2 linked regions of the Homo sapiens genome follow. The protein of the gene in region 1 purifies or fractionates together with the protein of each later gene. This does not show direct contact. Each region holds a gene or a part of one and is shown in the gene's direction. Other genes may lie near its edges. The genes, in order: PPIP5K1 and BUD23.

Region 1 (3,817 bases):
ATAAGACATAGACAGCTGCGTGTGGTGGATCACACCTGTAATCCCAACACTTTGGGAAGCCTAAGTGGGAGAATCATTTGAGGCCAGGAGTTCAAAACCAGCCTGGGCAACATGGCAAGATCCTGTCTCTACAAAAAATTTTAAAACATTATAAGATGGAAAAAAAAAAAAGGCACAGGTAAAGGAAAGCTCTGTGTATCATCTCTCAGACTTGATAAGATTGACTTCTTTCAGGCCTATGGGAAGCTTCCTATTGTAATCACAGGCTTTCTTTTCAATTACTAGTGCTGCTTAGACCCTGGCTTATCCAGGGTGATGGTTGTCCAGGATATTTTCCTCAGCTTTGCAAGAAAATCATCTCTCTGCTCCTTGGTCACAAAGCCTTATGATACTAATGTTAATGTTTATCTTCCTTGCTCTATAAATATAGGCATACAACTTATCCTTCCCTCCATCCCTTCTTCTCCTCTTGTCATCTCATACTTTTTAACTATTTTAGATTATAAAACTTACGACCTTTATAGCAGCTATGCCCTAGCTGGTCATCCTCTCTAGCCCTGTAACTAGCTCTGCCCTGTGGGCCCTGGGGCTTTTGGGAGCCTGGGGTTTAAAGGAGCCGTGACCGGCTTTCCACCCGGTCTGATTGCAGGTCATGAACATGCAGTGCACGGGGAACCTGGACCTCATCCCCTTGCGGGGACGGCGCTGCAGGAGGTCGGGAGACCTCCCCCAGCCTTCCCTAGCCATTGGCCTACAGCCCCGGGCTGTGTCCACCACTCACCTGGCATCCTGCACACAGGTGTCCCTCCCTACCTCACCTTCCTGTCTTGCCTTCTGTCTTTGCCTTTTGGGATCTAGGGGCTCAGACACTATCTGGGTGGGATGTGTGTGTTTTGGGGGTTGTGTGATTGGGCCCTTGTGGGCATTGTAAAAATTCTGTTTCATGTTTCTAGGGGTGAGACAGTGGAGGGGTGGGCTTCTTGGTTCTAACAAGGAATGTAGTATGGTTGCAGTAGCCACAGCTCTCCCATGCAAAGAAGAGAGGGTGGCCAGACTCTTATCTGTGGCTGAGCCATTGTGATTGGCTTTCTGAGTCTGTGGGGGGATAGATACAATTAGGAAACTCTGCTCTGCTGAGAACTAGGAATGGGTTGAATAATGATTTCTCAAACTCAGATTGGGAATGGGAGGGCTGTGGGGAAAGGCATCTTGAAAATAGAAGTGCCTTCTAGTATAGAAAGATGCCCCGGACAGTTCCCTCCATAAAGTACATTCTCTGTTCCCTTTTCATCCCTCTTCCCCTATAAATCCTTTGGTACTTCCAAACTTTCTAACATTGCTTGGCTTTGTAGGGACAGGAATCCAGGACCTGAGTTTTATACTTTGGGGTTGAGGTGGCAAAATGATTAATATAGAGTCCTTTTTCTGCAGGTACTTTCTGAGACTTCATCCTCGAGGCCTGGTGGCTACCGGCTCTTTTCATCTTCACGGCCACCCACAGAAATGAAGCAGAGTGGCCTAGGTATGGTTTTGCCAGCATTTCTCACCTATTGTTGGAAAAGTTGTCTGTCTGTTCTTCAGAGTTTTATTGTGGGAAACCTTTGTCATGGGATTTGGGACCGTCCAATCAGTGGAATATCATCAGGTGGAGGTAGGGAGGATGAAGTGGGAGAAGCCATAGTTAGATGTGAACTTGGATCTCAGATGATTATTCCATCCCAGGAAGGTGTTTATCTCTTGGTTTTCTATACCAACCACATTTCCCTGGCCAAAGGGCGTTTTTCTGGCTTTCCCTCTCATTCCTTATCTGTCCCTCCAGTCTAGCCCAGACCTTAAGGGGCCATGGAGACTCTGAACCTTCAGAGTTATCAAAGACAGAGCTATAAATAGAGGTACTTGCAACCCTCATAAATGTCGTATTCCTCATTTGAAGAAATGTGCCACGTCTTCCCCTGAAACCTGTGTTTTTCACATCCCCGCTCTTGCCCTTCTTACCACCTTGCCCTTTCCTCCATCATCTCCTAATCCTGTAACTTTTTCCCCTTCCTTCTGGAAAATTGACCAGTCTGAGACTGGTGTAGTGGCAGAGGCATCTCTCAGGACTTTGAGGAAATGTCTCTTGATTTTTGGATCCCTGGAAAGGGGTAGAGAACATCACTCAGCTTTTTCTAAGAGCACAGACGGCAGGAAGGACCAAGCCTCAGAGGGTATTGTATTCTTTGGGTGGGGGGCAGTCCTTGGGAGGAACTATCTCTGAGCACAGTGCCTTGTGAGCCAGTAATTAGAACTGGAGGTCAGACATGGTTGTGTGGGGTCTGGTCTTGGTCCTCTGGCTGTTTCTGTCTTGTCCTATTATTCTCTCTATTTAGCGCCTCTAATTGTTCTGTTGCCTTTGTCCTTGGCAGCCATTTTCTTGGCCCCAAAATGGTCAGCTTTTGGACTAGCAAGGGGGAGAAAGGTTTTGGTAACTTTCCAGGCTAATTTTATGAGAATAAGTTGCCTTCTAGATTCCTGAAATGAGGAAGATGGTATGGGGCATGAGAAATAAATGACAAGTGTGTAGATCTGGCCAGGCGCAGTGGCTCATGCCTATAATCCCAGCATTTTGGGAGGCCAAAGAAGGCAGATCACTTGAGGTCAGGAGTTCTGAGACTAGCCTGGCCAACATAGTGAAACCCCATCTCTACTAAAAATACAAAAATTAGCTGAGCATGGTGACGCATGCCTGTAATCCCAGCTACTTGGGAGGTTGAGACACGAGAATTGCTTGAACCCAGAAGATGGAGGTTGCAGTGAGCTGAGACTGTGCCACTGTACTCCAACCTGGGTGACAGAGTGACACTCTGTCTCAAAAAAAAAAAAAAAACCCGAAACAACAATAGTGTAGATCTAAGAAATGAACCTCTCTTCCCAGAAGTCCCAGTAAAGAATAGGTTTCAGACAGACTAGAAAAGAGGATAGGTGTGTCTGTCCCAGTTAAGTGGGCCGTGGGAATGCTTTCAAGAGCAAGGCAGAGGTATGGACATGGAACTGGTTGGCAGATGGTGGTGGTAAGGTAGAGACCACCCTCTGAGATGATCTGAGGACTGGGCAGAACAGAGTTGGCATGACTGCACCAGAAAAGTATTCAGTGGAGGAAGTGTATGTAGGACAAAGCTTGGGGTGGTCTGGGATAGAGCCAGCTAGTTTTAGCTTCTCTGAAGAAAAGCAGTCATATTTAGCAACTGTTATTACTCTCTGGAATCTCATTCCAGAGCCTGTTTGAACATGAAAGGTGGAGGAAGTTGCTGTATAGGGGAGAGGTCCTGAATTCCAGGGTGGGAATCATCAGGCATCTGAACTTCCTGATTGCTCTGGTGACCCCGAAATCCTGGGACCCCTGAAACCATGGTCCCTTCTTGGTGGCCTCAAGGGAATTGAACTCCTTTCCACTCCATCCATTTCCCCTATGAATGTTAAGTCCCAAGCCAAACCCAGGGTCTTGGCTAAGATGGATTTGGAAGTAGAGAGGCAAATCCTGAGAACTTGGGTATCAGTCTTGTTTCTTCTTGACCACTCTGTCCTTATAGGCTATAGTAGGAGAAGGGACCGTGGAGTCCTAACCCTCCTCTAGATCAGCTGTTGGGGACAGTGACTGGTCTGATTTATTTCATACTTCAGAGATTATTCAGATTTTATTTAATCCTCTCATTGGCAATGGAATTCTCTTTGTTTTCTTAGAATTTATATGTGTGGGCAACTGGCTTTGAGCATAGGCTTACATGATAATACACTTTTGCAAGCAGAACAAACATGTCTTTTTGTTGTTATTTCCTGT
Region 2 (2,875 bases), on another chromosome or scaffold:
TGGGGGAGCTGAGGGCTTGTCTCCCTGTGGGGCTTTCTCCACCCAACCCTCACTTTGCACTTTCTCCTTTCAGATTCTACCTCTGCTTGTTTTCTGGGCCTTCGACCTTTATACCAGAGGTGAGGGACACTGGGTTTGCAGGCAGGCCTGTGTCTTTTGACTTCCAGGCAGTGGGGCTCAGCCTGCAGAGCCTGCTGGGAGAACACTGGTGGGGAAGCAGGGCCCAGCCCCAGAGTGCAGACCCTGGAGTGCTCACATCCTCTGGAATCTGGAGGCAGAGACCTCTGCTCTGCAGGTCCCAGAAAGGCGTGTCAGTTCCTTCTCGTGGGACTGGACCTCGTCCCTGTCGGAAGGGTCAGGCCTGGGTGCCTGGGCTTCTGGAGTGGGGCAGATGGTTTGAGAACTCTCCAGGGTGACCTGAGTGCACTTTGGTTCCTGCAGGGGCTGAGTGAAAATCAGGATGAAGTTGAACCCAGGGAGTCTGTGTTCACCAATGAGAGGTAAAGCAACTGCTGAAGCCTGCCCCGGCTGCAGCGGGGGCTGCCACATTTGTTAGACATGGACTTTCTCTCTGCCCTCACCCAAGCCTCTCAGGTCACATGCAGCAGGGACACCAAGGTGACGGTAGAAACATCAGGTCCCATTTGGACTGTGCCTGTTTGGGGCTAGGGGTTTGGGGTCCTGGATGTCTGGGTGCAGCCATGCAGCCTGGACTCCCTTTGTGAGCCCACACATGCCCCTTCCCCTTGCCACGCCTGGCAGGCTGTCTCCTTCTTTTCTGATGCTGCCCTCCACCTGCATCTGGGACCCTCTCCCTTGGGTGCTGTGGCTCTCCCTTCCTTCCTGCATCCTCATCTTGACTCTCCTGGGTCACTGCTGTCGGCACACAGACATGCTGCACAATTTCTCCTTTTCTAGAAAAGTTCCTTCCTTAACCCCATAACAACAACTAACCACCCCGTTGTTGCTTCCCTTCATAGCAGAACTCAGACCTGCCTCTTCTTCCCCTCCCACCATTCTCTCAATCCACTTCTCAGGCTGACAATTCTGTCTCATCACAAATTGTTCTTGTCAACTCCACCACCAATTTCCATCAAGCCACATCTGGTCACTTGTGACTTTTTTTCATGTCCTTAATGTGCCTGCTCGGTAGGGTCAAAGACAGCAGTGCGCTCCCTCCTTGACGCTTCCTTCACTTGGCCTTCCACCCACCATCGTGGTTTCCTCAGCCTTCCTGGCTGCTCCTCACTCCACTGCTGCTTCCTCTTCGAGTGCTGGGCCCAGCCTGGATTGGATCCCTTCTCTACCTGTGGTGCTGTAAATGCCAGCCGGAAGGTCCTAATTCCCAAATGTGTATCTTCAGTCTCTTGCCACCTGGGGTTTCCCAATGCCCCCTCAGTGTCTATACCTGGAGTTTCCATGGGTAGTCTCTCTCTGTTACCCAGGCTAGAGTGCAGTGGTGGAATCTTAGCTCACTGCAGCCTCGAACTCCTGGGCTCAAATGATCCTCCTGCCTCAGCCTCCCAAGTAGCTGAGACTACAGGTGCATGCCACCATGCCTGGTTAATTTTTAAAGTTTTTGGTAGAGATGAGGTCTTGCCATGTTGTTCAGGCTGATCTTGAACTCCTGGCCTCAAGCAATCCCCCTGTCTCGGCCTCCCAAAGTTCTGGGATGACTGATGTGAGCCACCATGCCTGGCCATCCTCCATTCTTTTTTTTTTTTGAGATGGAGTCTCACTCTTTCCCCCCAGGCTGGAGTGCGGTGGCTTGATCTCGGCTCACTGCAACCTCTGCCTCCCAGGTTCCAGCGATTCTCTTGCGTCAGCCTCCCGAGTAGCTGGGATTGCAGGCGCCCGCCCAACTAATTTTTTGTGTTTTTAGTAGAGACAGGGTTTCACCATGTTGGCCAGGCTGTTCTCAAACTCCTGACCTCGTGATTCGCCCGCCTCGGCCTCCCAAAGTGCTGGGATTACAGGTGTGAGCCACTGCGCCTGGCCTCATCCTCCATTCTTTACCATTCTTGATCATTCCTGTCTTTCCCTACATTTCACATCTTGTCAGCCTGTCATTGAGCCCTGCTGTCCGTCCCTCAGTGTGTATCCCCGTGCTGACCCTCCCTGCTTCCAACGAGCCTAATCCAGCACTGCCCCTAGCCTGGATTGCTGAACAGCTGCCTGTGTTGTCTCCTTGCCTTTGCAGTCTTTGCCTCTTTCAGATTATTTTCTGCATAGCAGCAAGACTGGTCTTTTTCTTTTTTTCTAAAATGTAAGTTGTATCTTGTCATTGCTCTTTTAGTGCCTTCATTGCAGTTGTGCTCCCCGCTCATGTTGATTTTCCTTAACACCCTTCACTGCTCTAAGTCATACACATACCAGTTGACTTGGTTATTATTTGTATCTCCAGCTAGAGTGAAAACTTGGTGAGGACTGGTATTATATCCCTGACATTAAAAATAGTGTCTTGTTAGTAAAAAGTGCTCAGTATTTTTCTGAATGAATAATTGATTATAAGGTAGTGAAGAGGGAGGTTATATCTGAGGTCCAGTTGACATGAGGGAAAGGTCTTAAGACCTTTAAGACATTTAAGAGGAAAAATGAGCCCAAAATGCATGTGTTTGGAAGGCCCACAGCTGGGCACAGCCATGCATGTTCCTCACGTCCACCATAGGTTTATGCTGCCTGACCCCTTGGGTCTTTGCTCATTTCCCTTAGTTTCCCTAGTCCATTCCCCATGGGGAGCTGGGACCCTTCTGGATGACCTCTTCTCTGAGGCGCCCATCTCGTGCTCCCAGGGAGCACTCCCATCTCCTCCCTCCCAGGGGAAGTACACATTGCCTTATCTCCATGTGTCTTAGGATCCTTCTTGTCCTTACAC

What was found.
Region 2: the proteins of PPIP5K1 (region 1) and BUD23 fractionate together in Homo sapiens (co-fractionation; one large-scale study listed by BioGRID). This does not show direct contact.

Annotation. Positions count from the first base shown.
Region 1 is NC_000015.10:43,566,168-43,569,984, reverse strand, and holds part of PPIP5K1 (inositol hexakisphosphate and diphosphoinositol-pentakisphosphate kinase 1), read left to right. Parts: intron 1-649; coding exon of another isoform or gene 650-799; intron 800-1,431; coding exon 1,432-1,522; intron 1,523-3,817. UniProt on the Homo sapiens protein: Bifunctional inositol kinase that acts in concert with the IP6K kinases IP6K1, IP6K2 and IP6K3 to synthesize the diphosphate group-containing inositol pyrophosphates diphosphoinositol pentakisphosphate, PP-InsP5, and bis-diphosphoinositol tetrakisphosphate, (PP)2-InsP4.
Region 2 is NC_000007.14:73,693,551-73,696,425, forward strand, and holds part of BUD23 (18S rRNA (guanine-N(7))-methyltransferase), read left to right. Parts: intron 1-73; coding exon 74-119; intron 120-441; coding exon 442-500; intron 501-2,875.